Regions from separate parts of the Homo sapiens genome. Here region 1 is linked to region 2. The links come from fine-mapping of genetic effects on gene expression. A gene starts in region 2. The other region holds a variant in brackets. All regions are shown on one strand. Distances are from middle to middle. Region 1 overlaps WARS2-AS1 (WARS2 antisense RNA 1). Region 2 holds the start of WARS2-AS1 (WARS2 antisense RNA 1).

The links.
Region 1: its variant is fine-mapped to the expression of WARS2-AS1 in spinal cord (GTEx, PIP 0.97).

Annotation. Positions count from the first base shown.
Region 1 is chr1:119,217,442-119,222,825 of GRCh38, forward strand. All of the region lies in intron 4 of WARS2-AS1 (WARS2 antisense RNA 1), which reads left to right. It also overlaps the pseudogene RPL6P2. Among named protein-coding and RNA genes, the nearest start is that of WARS2, 79 kb to the left of the region's middle. The variant G/A (reference allele first, on the strand shown) is at 2,529.
Region 2 is chr1:119,137,774-119,143,157 of GRCh38, forward strand. It overlaps WARS2-AS1 (WARS2 antisense RNA 1), which reads left to right and starts at 2,623. Exons shown (of 7, transcript NR_125975.1): 1 at 2,623-3,020; 2 at 3,974-4,040. WARS2 (tryptophanyl tRNA synthetase 2, mitochondrial) reads right to left here and starts at 2,880. Exons shown (of 6, transcript NM_015836.4): 1 at 2,782-2,880. The coding sequence starts at 2,871. RefSeq lists an enhancer at 2,652-2,961.

The DNA of each region.
Region 1 (5,384 bases), 80 kb after region 2:
TTTCCTAATGTGGAACTATCCAACAGACTTCCCTGGGTAATCATTCATCTCACCCTTCACTCTCTTAGCACTCACATAATGTATAATTATGCATGTATTTGTGTGGTTGGTTAATATCTGCCTCTTAGCTCTAGGAGTTACTCCTTTGTTTGCCACTTTAGCTAGCATAATGCTTTGTACATAAGAGTTGCTCAATCAATATTGATGAAATTAGTGAGAGGTTCCCAGTCTCACTGTGGAGACAGATACAGAAACAATAGCAATGAGAGGAAAAGCCAAAACAGATGTATGAAAACAGATGTTGGGAGCACAAAAAAGGAAGAAACAAACTCCACCTGGGGAACCCTCCCATTAGCAGGTAACAGAAAGAGTTGCTCACTGATTAGCTAACCTCCATTTGAATGTTATTCTCTGACAGTTGACAATGTTGATGGCACTGTGTTGCTGTTTAACACACAGGGAAGGAGCTGACTTTCTACCAGATATTAGATGCAAAAGTCCCAAAGGATTCAAGGAGGTAAACATGCATCTGAACTCCTGGCTCACACACAAAGGACAAAGGCACCTCTGAAGGGGGCAGACGTCTTCTGCACCCACAGTCCTGTTTATTTTCTCCTCCAGTGGAGGGGGTAACATAGGTCAGCTGGAATGGTGCATCCTGATGAATATTTATTGACCCAAAATGTCATGCTGACAGACATGTGGACAGGCAGAGAAAGATTTCTCTTACAGAGGCCTTCCTTCTCTGCTCCCATGGTTCTGACACAGCTGACATTTCCCTACATGGGTCCTGACTTCTCCAGCTGCTCCTGGGGATGCTGGTGTCTCTCTGATGGGGTCACTGAAGACACTATTCCACATTCTTTCTTGGGGGCTGTGCTGCCACTCTGGCCTCTCACAAATGGTGGTCTTAAGATGTTGGTTTCCCATTCTTCCAGCCAGCACATGCACAATCAGCTAGCCAGTCTCAATTCCAGTCTCTTCTCCACCAGCTCTTCCCCCTCCTCCTGGATTTCATTGTCAGGGTCATAGGTGGCCAAAATTAACTGTGCATTTTGAAGAGGGAAGTCCTAGGTGACACCCAAAATCATCTTTGTGATTAAAAAAATGGGTTCTGTTTTTGCTATGAAAAATAGATGTGGGGTCACAAATGTGACCCTTTTCTCTCTTACATTCCTAATATTTTTCTCCATTTTCTGTTTTTTCTTTCCCATTTCTCCCATCAAAGCTTGTTTTATTTAATTTTTATTTAAAAAACTTTTTATTGTTAAATATATTGTAAGTACCAAAAAACCATGAAAAGAGAATGTGCAAGTTAAAATAATGGTTTTAAAGGTATAACTCTTGTAAACACTACCCATGATAAGAGAACTTTTCCAGCCACCTCAGAAGCCCTCTACATGCCCATCTCTCAAACATCTCCCCTCTTCCAGCAAAAGTAACCATTGTCCTAACTTTTATTGCAACCACTTCTCACTTTTTAAAAATAGTCTTATCACCTAAGTGTATATTCCTAAACACCTGTTTAGCTTTACCTGTTTTTTATAAATATCTTTTAAGTGCCTTTTAATCCATAGGCTTCCCCTTCATCTCCTTATTTTTCCTTACAATTAATTCATTGAAAGAAATGCAACACTTAATCTAAAGAGGTTCCTACAGTTTAGAATTAGCGGGTTGCTTCCCCACAGTAAAGTTTACTCTGTGTTTCTGATTGTGTCTAAGTGACCAATCCAGGTCCTCCTCCTCCTTCTTCTTTCTTCTTTCTTCTTGTTTTAAAGCATAGGACCTCACTATTAGGTGCTCTTCCTTAGAGGTTACGTATGTCTCAATGTCTCTCTTTTTGTGATGTTAGTAGTCATTGATGTTTAATAGCTTTGATTTTTGCAAAATTTGTGAGTCCGCAGCTTTCTGATCAATCTTGCACTGCTCTGTAATCTCGTATTTCTCTTTTTCTGTGTCAAGGATCTCACCTTCCTGATGTCTGGGCTTCTGCAGCTTCTTCTTTGTGAAGTAAGCATCAGTAAGATGTTTTGGGGTTTTTACATTGCTGATATCAATTCTGGTTGAGGTGCAATGACAAATTTCTGGTGTGTTCTTTGTAGAGGAACTCGATTGAGGACCAGAGGTCCAGTCACAAGTACCAACCAAGCCGCTAGCCAGCTGCTTCAGGAAAACCACCCTCTTGCTCCTGTGGTGTCCAATGAGGATGATCAGAATGGTCCTGGGGGTGATGCTGGCTCGCAGTTTTCTCACGTGCCAACTGAAGGGTATTTTGCCATGGCTCAACAGCTTTTGAGGCACGTCTTCAGTAGGATAATATCTAGGCATTTTGTGAAGTTTAATCACCCAGATACCACCATTCTTGTCACCACTAACTGGTTTTGTAACAGTTGCAAGAAGCTTCTTTTTCTTTTCAACCTTGGATTTAGTGGCTGAGTACTTCCTCTTGTACGTGGCCTTTCTAGAATACATAGCAGATCAGGAATATGTGCCAATTCTTCTGACAAGGGCAGGATTTCAGCTGCAAC[G/A]GGGCTTCCCCTTCTTGGGCTTTTTAGCCCTGAGGTTACCCCTTTCCACTTTGCCACCAGCATTAGCCTTTTTGGCTTCGGGCTTCTTCTCTTTGGTATGCAGCTTCTCAACTTTTTCACCCATCATCTTGCAGGATGGGAAAGAGAACTCGAATTTGTTGAAATTTAAGTACCCATGTGGTTTTTGTTTCTTCGGTGGCACACTTTGCATAGTAAAAACAAAAGGAAACCTTAAAAATTTTAAACTTTTATTTACCAATTTTCCAAAAACTAGTTGGTTCCCTAGCATCTTCTGAAGATAATCAATTTAGGTTTTTTGGCAGGGGGTGGAAGTGGGGATGGGGGCAATTTTATTTTATTGTGGTAAGAACACAACATGAGATCTACCCTCAGGAAACTTTTAAGTGTACAAGACCTTATTGTTGCCTGTATGTTCTATATTGTAATGCAGATATCTAGAGCTTATCATCCTGCTTAACTGAAACTTTATGCCTGTTTATTGATAACTCCCCATTTCTCACTTCTCCCAGTTCCTGGCTACCACCATTCTATCCTTTGCTTCTATCAATTTGACTATTTTAGATACCTCATATAAGTAGAATCATGCAGTATTTTTCTTTCTATGACTGGCTTATTTCACTTAATGAAATATCCTCAAGGTTGATATCTTGTTTCATATTGCAGAATTTCCTTCTTTTTAAAGGCTGAATAGTATTCTATTGTATGTATATATCACATTTTCTTTATCCATTCATAGTTTGATGGATATCAAGGCTATTTCCACATCTTGGCTATTGTGAATAGTGTCTCAATGAACAGGAGAGTGCTAATATATCTTCAGGATCCTAATTTTGATTATTTTGGATAAATACCCAGAAGTGGGATTGCTGAATAATATGGTATGTGATTTAGTTCAGCTTTTAATTTTTTGAGGAAACTCCATGCTGGTTTTCATAGTAGCTGTAGCAAATTGATTCCCATCATCAGTGTGGCAAAACTGAAAATCTTGCACTCTGTTGGTTAGAATCAATTTGGTTTTTTAGAGCTGATTTTAAAGTAGTTAAATAGGCAACTACTCATGTTGCACTTTGACATTCCTTCCTCTCTCACACACATCACAGGGAGAGAGAGGATTCAAGGAGAAGAAACCCACAGCCTCTGAGTCAGGGGAGAAGTTAGGCCAGCAAAAATGTTGGGACCCAAGGAGGAGCTCAGTAAGCAAGCAAGCAAGCCTCAGAATTGCTCAGGGTGACCTCTCCTCTTCAAGTCAAATACCTTTGTGTCTAAAGAGGATTATGTTGGCCATGCTCCCTTATAGTCAACACATGGGAAGGTATTAAAAAGAGGCCTCTCTGGAGACACTTTGGTTTCCTTTCATAGTCAGCATTGGATCCCTTCATGAGATGGAGCAATATCTTCCATTAATTCACGTTCCTATGTTCACCCTCCTCCCCCACACCCTACAGGGAATGTCTGCAAACATCAAATGCTTCTCAAGTCACCTCCAATGCTGATTGGTGTCTCTCCTATTTTTTTCCTTTAGTAATAGCTAGGGACTGTGGTTTGGGGCTGCTTTGGAGTATGAGTTGGGGGGTGAGATGAAGAGGCAAGTAGTCTAGCAAAACTTTTCAAGTTGAGATTAGAGTTTCCAGCAGGGTCCTAATTGTCCTTTGAACAAGTCTAAAGTCTTCTTCTTATAATTTTTTAATTGATGTATAATTCACATGCCTACAATTTACTGTTAGGAAGTGTGCAATTCGGTGGCTTTTAATATATTCAAAAGGTTGTGCAGCTATTATCACTGTGTAATTCTAGAATATATTCATTGCTCCTGAAAGAAACCCTGACACATTAGCAGGCAGTCTGCATCCTCCCTCCTCACTCCACCCAACCCCTGACACCCTCTAATAATCCACTTTCTGTCTCTATGTGTTTTCCTATTCTGGGATTTTCACTTAAATGGAATTACATAATAAGTGGACTTCATATCTGGCTTGTTTTACTTATCATAATGTTTTCAAGGTGCATCCATGTTGTAGAATGTATCAATACTTCGTTCCTTTTATGGCTGAATAATATTCCATAATATGGATGTAGAACTTTTTATTCATTTACTCATCAGTTGATAAAAATTTGGGTTATCTCTACCTTTCGGTTATTATGAATAATGTTTCTATGAACATTTCTGTATATGGTTTTGTGTGAATACATGTTTTTAATTTTCTTGGATATATAGCATTACTAGGTCATACAATTCTGTTTAACTTTTGGAAAAACTGGCAAGCTGTTTTCCAAAAAAAGCTGCATAATTTTATACTCCAAGTAGCGTTGCAGAAGGGTTTCAGTTTCTCCATGTCCTCACCAATACCTCTTACTTTCTGTCTTTTTAAATCTTAGCCATTGTACCTGTGTGAGCGGTATCACACTGTGGTTTTGATTTGCATGTCTTTTGTGACTAATGATGTTGAGCATTTTTTCATGTGCTTCTTGACCACTTACGTATCTTCTTTGGAGAATCTTTTTTAAAAAAGTACTATACATTTCCCTAGAGAGATTTGTTTGTTGTTACTAATTCTCTCTAGGTTCTTCTTTTGCCTTGGAATATCGGGGAAAGTCCCAAGAGTGTTCTGCATCCTTGCTCCTTGATCTCATCTTTACGTGAAGAAGACTGTACAGCAGAAGCAGCAGCAGATTCAGGGTGGGGCTGAGGGTGGGGAAAGTGGGTGCTGTTCTTGTTTGTGTGATTTGAAAAAACTCCCTGAGTGAGGATAAAGACACCCAATCTGTTAGTGTCTCTTTCCTTGGGTTCTATGTTGAACACTTTGTCCTTTGATATCTATTAGAGGGTGAGATGGA
Region 2 (5,384 bases):
CCCATAATGAGTATGGAGTGATGTGCTGTTATTCCTGTTTCTCCCTGTTTTATTTTCAACTTGAGTTTACATCTGCATCCTCTGAGATAAGCAAAGATGCCCTATGCCAACATTTTTACCCAAGATTTTGTTTTAAAAAAAGAAAACACTAAAAACCATTAAAACAACTTAGGAATCACAACACTTTATTAGTTAGAGTTTCTAACATAGCACTGTTATGGCTCATTCACTTTTGCTTTACACCTAAGGGAGTAAGTGCACAGCCAAGGCTAATAAAAACTAACTTGGCTATTTCTTGGTTTTTGATGGAACCATTCATATGATAAATATACATTTTTTCCCATTATACTATACTCTTGCAAAATAATTTTTTTCTACAAAGGTTATGAGATATCATAAAAATGTCTAATGCATCTGGTTTAAGAATCCAATGCCTCTTTCACATATTTCTGCATCTGTTCACAAAATCCCTTTGACTTCAAAGGAAGCTTTTCAAGAGAAAAAGAAGATACATACAGGAAAAGTGGCCATAAATTTTTAGTAGTCCTTTTCTAAGGCCATTTTAATAACAGCATTGTGGGACAAGTATCTTCCTCAGAATCCTAAAATATCACAAATGATATTAATGACTAAAGATCTGTATAAAGATTTATGATTTCAAAACGTTTTTCTGGTTATTAAAAAGTGTGTGTCTTCAATTTAGACATGTGAAAAATATGTAATGCTATAAAAGGAAACAAATAACTTTTAACCCACTATTTAGGAAGGCCAAAGCAAAATAAAAAAGTTAAAAATGTTTGTTCCCTTCCAGGCTTTTTTTCTATGTATACGTTTATATAAACACTTATATATAAACATAACATCGTAATAACACTATGAACACAATTTTGTATCTTTTCTCAGTCTTTCAAAAAACCACATTAATCTTTCAAACCATCATTTTCAATGACTGAAATTATATGTAGATTTATACTTTAAAAAAATACTCTCACATTTAATACTTATTCTACTCAAAGCTAAATTAAAGGTTTAGAAACATTCATCGGTACTGGAAATTCTACATCTTGAAACAATCTAGATTAATAATTAACTTTAATAGCCCTATTCATAAATGCCACTGAAACAATAGTAGAGGTTTAAGAAATTTTTTCTTTAGCATTTATAATGACTTAGTGTCTTAAACTTCCCTGGGCAGTCATTAGCAGGCTGCAGTTTGTCTTTTTTTTCTCTCTCTCTTTGATTCTCTATTCTCAAGACATCTTCAATTCTTTAGTTTGGAATAAGGGGAAGTTTGGGTCTACGGCTTAGCTACTTTGATAGCATAGGTGTTAATGTGCTATAAATTATAAATAATCATCTCATTCTAGTTCTGCAGAATCAAACCCTCAAATTTCAAGGAGAGGAATTTTTGATAAATTTATCTAATTTTGAATTGTCTTACCTAACATTGCTGCTGAAATTTAAGGTGACATTTGAATAGTTGTTTGCTGACAAGCAGCTTTCCGGTATATATTAATATATTAGCTTATAAGAATTTTGTGAGGCTCACATTAATAAAAAACGGAAGTTCAAAAAATTTATGACATGACTAGAAAAATAAGTTGAACTTAAATTTTGGTTTTCATAATTACTCTCATTGGCTTTGTTTTGGCTTCATAATCATGGAACTATAGATTTTCCAGAGGTTGAAAGAACATTAACGTGTCAATCAGTCCAGCTCTCTTCCTCCACTCAATATGAGCAAAAAAAGAAGAAAAGTCCCAGAGAGATTGTGACTTGTCACACAGCTGTCAAGTGGCAGACCAAACCCTTGACCTCTAGGCTACCTTCCTGTCTAGCGCTGTTTTCAACACAACAGTTACAATAGGTGCGACATCCTCACACCTACTCATTATGGCAATACATATGCAAATGATGCCGGGAAATTACCTAATAAAATCACATTCTCTCCTTTCTCTCTAGTTCCCAGAATATATCTCCCGTAGATAAAGTATGTCAAAGTGCTTGCCACTGAGACTGTACTTGGAAGACGTTTGGTAAAATCCTGAATAACTGAAAGGGTATCCCCTCCCCCTGACTTTTTTGCTATGAGGGTAAAATTCCAAATATTTAAGACAATTCCCAATAAGACCAGGCCGCGACATGGTCTCCGTACGACGAGATTAATGGTAACAGCAGTGTTGTCAAGCGCAGGACAGGACAAACTCTGTAGCAGCTTGCGGTCACTCTTTCACAGCCTGCTAGATAGAGCAGTGCTGTGGAGCCACCAGGAGCAACCAGAATGGAAGATGCACTGACACTTGCTCAAGTACCACACTGCCAACCTGCTGCCCCGACCCAAGCTGCCCAATGCCTAACAAAACTTCTCTACTCTCTCCGATAGCCCCTTAGCGTGTTGTTAGGGTAAGGAGGGTAAAAACAGTAATAAGACCACAAGAAGAGCAGTCTCTAAAACAACCCGTCTCTGAAAACATCACACGCGGGGTAGGCTCACCGCGTTGCCCGGCAACAGCGGCGGCGCTCCGCTCCCAGAACTGGAGGTGGCGGCAAGAGGTCAGAAAGCGGCGCGCTTTTTCCACCAAGAAACCTTTACGTCATCACGTATCCTTGCAACGTCACTACGCTCTGAGCAGGCCGACAGTCATAGACGAGTAGACCTTAGGCGAGGGAAGGCATGTACTTTCCCTAAGAAGCGGGAGGAGAGAAATAAATAGAGGGCAGTGGGATGAGAAGAACCTCGCGGGATGGGAAGCCGCGGAGGGAAGGGCCGTCTTTGGTTACCTGGAGAGCGGGAGCAGCTGCGGATCCCTTATGAAGTGCCCGGATGAAGCTCCAGCGCTCACGCGCTTTCCGCATTGAGTGCAGCGCCATCTTGAGAAGGGCGGAGCCGTCTTGTTTGGAATGACGTCTGTTCAGAGAGCCAATCCCAGTCTCGCGACTCCTGCTTGCTGGGCGCGGCTTGGGCCTCCAGGCTGCGCAGCGCAGCCGCTATCGGGCGGACTGCAGTTCTTGCCGAGCAGGTGGGGACAGGAGCGGGGTGGGGCTTTAGTGTTTTTCCCTGGATCCCTTGTCTGCTCAGCCTTCCTGGAAGGAGAATTTCCTTGGGGGTTATTAGTAGCAACGCTTTAGACTGGAAGAAAGTCAAGTAGGCTGCATTTCTGATCTTAGCTATGTGAAGGCAACCTTTAAAAAGTTTGTTTAGAAACTCCCAGTTCTCTTAGAGGGTAATATAAGTGGTCTTTTTAGACATGTGTGGCCTCATTTCCCTTTTTTTTCTTTGAGACAAGGTCTCACTCTCGCCCAGGCTGGAGTGCAATGGCGCGATCTCGGCTCACTGCAACCTCCACCTCCCAGACTCAAGCTATTCTCCTGCCTCAGCCTCCTGAGTAGCTGGGACCACAAGGGTGCGCCACCACGCCCGGCTAATTTTTGTATTTTGGTGGAGACAGGGTTTCACCATGTTGCCCAGGCTCTCTCAAACTCCTGAGCTCAAGCCAAGCCATCTGCCTCGGCCTCCTAAAGTGCTGGGATTACAGGCATGTGCCACCGCACTGGACTTATGTGGCCTTATTTCATTCGTCCTGTAAACTTTGTTGAACCCTACCGTAATGTGCTGGGCACTGAAGGTACAGAGAAAGACATATCTTGTCTTCAAGTTGTGTACAGTCTAATAGAGTAGCGGATAAATAAATGATGTACACTTAATAGGTGTTAAAGAAGCAAGCACCGCAAGTTTTAAGGAGGAGTGGTTATGACTGTGGTGTTTCAACCTAGTCTAGGGAAGGCTGCAGGAAGGTTATACCTGATGGAAGAAATTGTTTTGTTTGGGGTTATGAGAAAGTTTAATACAGTTTTTCTGCTTCTGTTAATTCACCTAAAAATCTCCCAGACAGATAACGAGTGTTTCAGTAAAAATATAACTGGAAGAAATTCATGACAATTCCTTTATGTGTTTTGTTTATAATTCATCCAGCTACTGAAAATTACCAAGGAGAGGTAGGAGATAAGAGATGCCTATAAAGGAGCTGAAATCTACCAGGGTAAGACAAAACAGTAAATTAAAACCATATAGGATAATCTTGTAGGTATACAAAGTACTGGTGAAGTTCAAGTATAATTGGTGTAATTTAGAAGTGAGCAGGAAAGGGATGAAGGCAAAAAAAAAACTAGGAAATCAAGTTATAGTCTTCAACAAAGCTGATCAGTTTGGTTTTGGCTGTTAAATTTGAGGTGCTTGTAGTACTTCCAAAATGTGATGCCCATTAAATAGATACATGGGTCTGGAGCTCAGAAGAGATTTGAACTACCAAACAGATGGTAATTGAAACCAAGGAAATCCTTGAGACCATCAGATAGAGTTTGTGGAGTGAAAGTAGCCAGATGATGGAAATAAAGGAGCCAAGAGGTGTTGTAGAACCCAAAGAATGTGATATTACTGAGACCCTGGAAACAAACCTTGCCAGGGGAAGGGGGATATATGTTATGCCTTGTAAAATGCAGTTTAATAAATGCCCTACATGTTTTACTCATACATAGAGCAAAGCATTATAGTACAGTGTTTTACATATATTTTATTAATGAGATTACATGACCCTAGCAATTAGCAAGATTAGCTTTCTGACATCTTTAGTCATCTAGATAGCAAGATAAAACCTAGCAATAAGACTATGGTGCACCAAAAGCTGTCAAAGGGTGTACCTACTTTATTTCTTCAAGAAGTAGTTCTTAGTCGTATCTGCAGACTCCTATGACCAATAATATTTCCGTGGGAGGTATTTCCAAGACATAGTCCCACTAAAAAAGGTGGGACTTTAAGACCACAAGTTTTATAACTTTAGTATCCTGATTTTTAAAATTGAAAATATTTGCTAATTTTTAGACTTTGTTAGAAGTAATAAACTGTGTTTTGCACCGTGGCGGTGACCTGGTAACTCTCAGGTGTCACTCAGCCAGCCTTGCTTCTTGGACAAGGACTATAGTTTATATTTCTAACATCTCCCCCAGCACCTAGAATAGTCTCTTATGCAGAGTAGGCACCTCTTTTAAAAGTAAATTGGATTTTAACAAATTACACAGCTTATTGTCAGCAATTGTTATGCTTTTAACAGCCAGAAGGAACAGTTAACAGAAAAGACACAGGATGTATTAAAAATGAACCAGTTCTGTCTACTTTTGTACTTTTTCACAGTAAGCATTTTGGTGTTGGGGAAAGTATGACTACAAAGCTCACCATCTTCTAAGAGGAGGAATATATTCAGCTCAGTATATTTAACGTATTTTAATAAGTTTTTAATAATGGTAACCATGACTCCTCGGGGAAAGATATATTATTCAATGTATCTTTGAAGAAAAAACCTACAATACACTTTTGAAATGTTTTCATA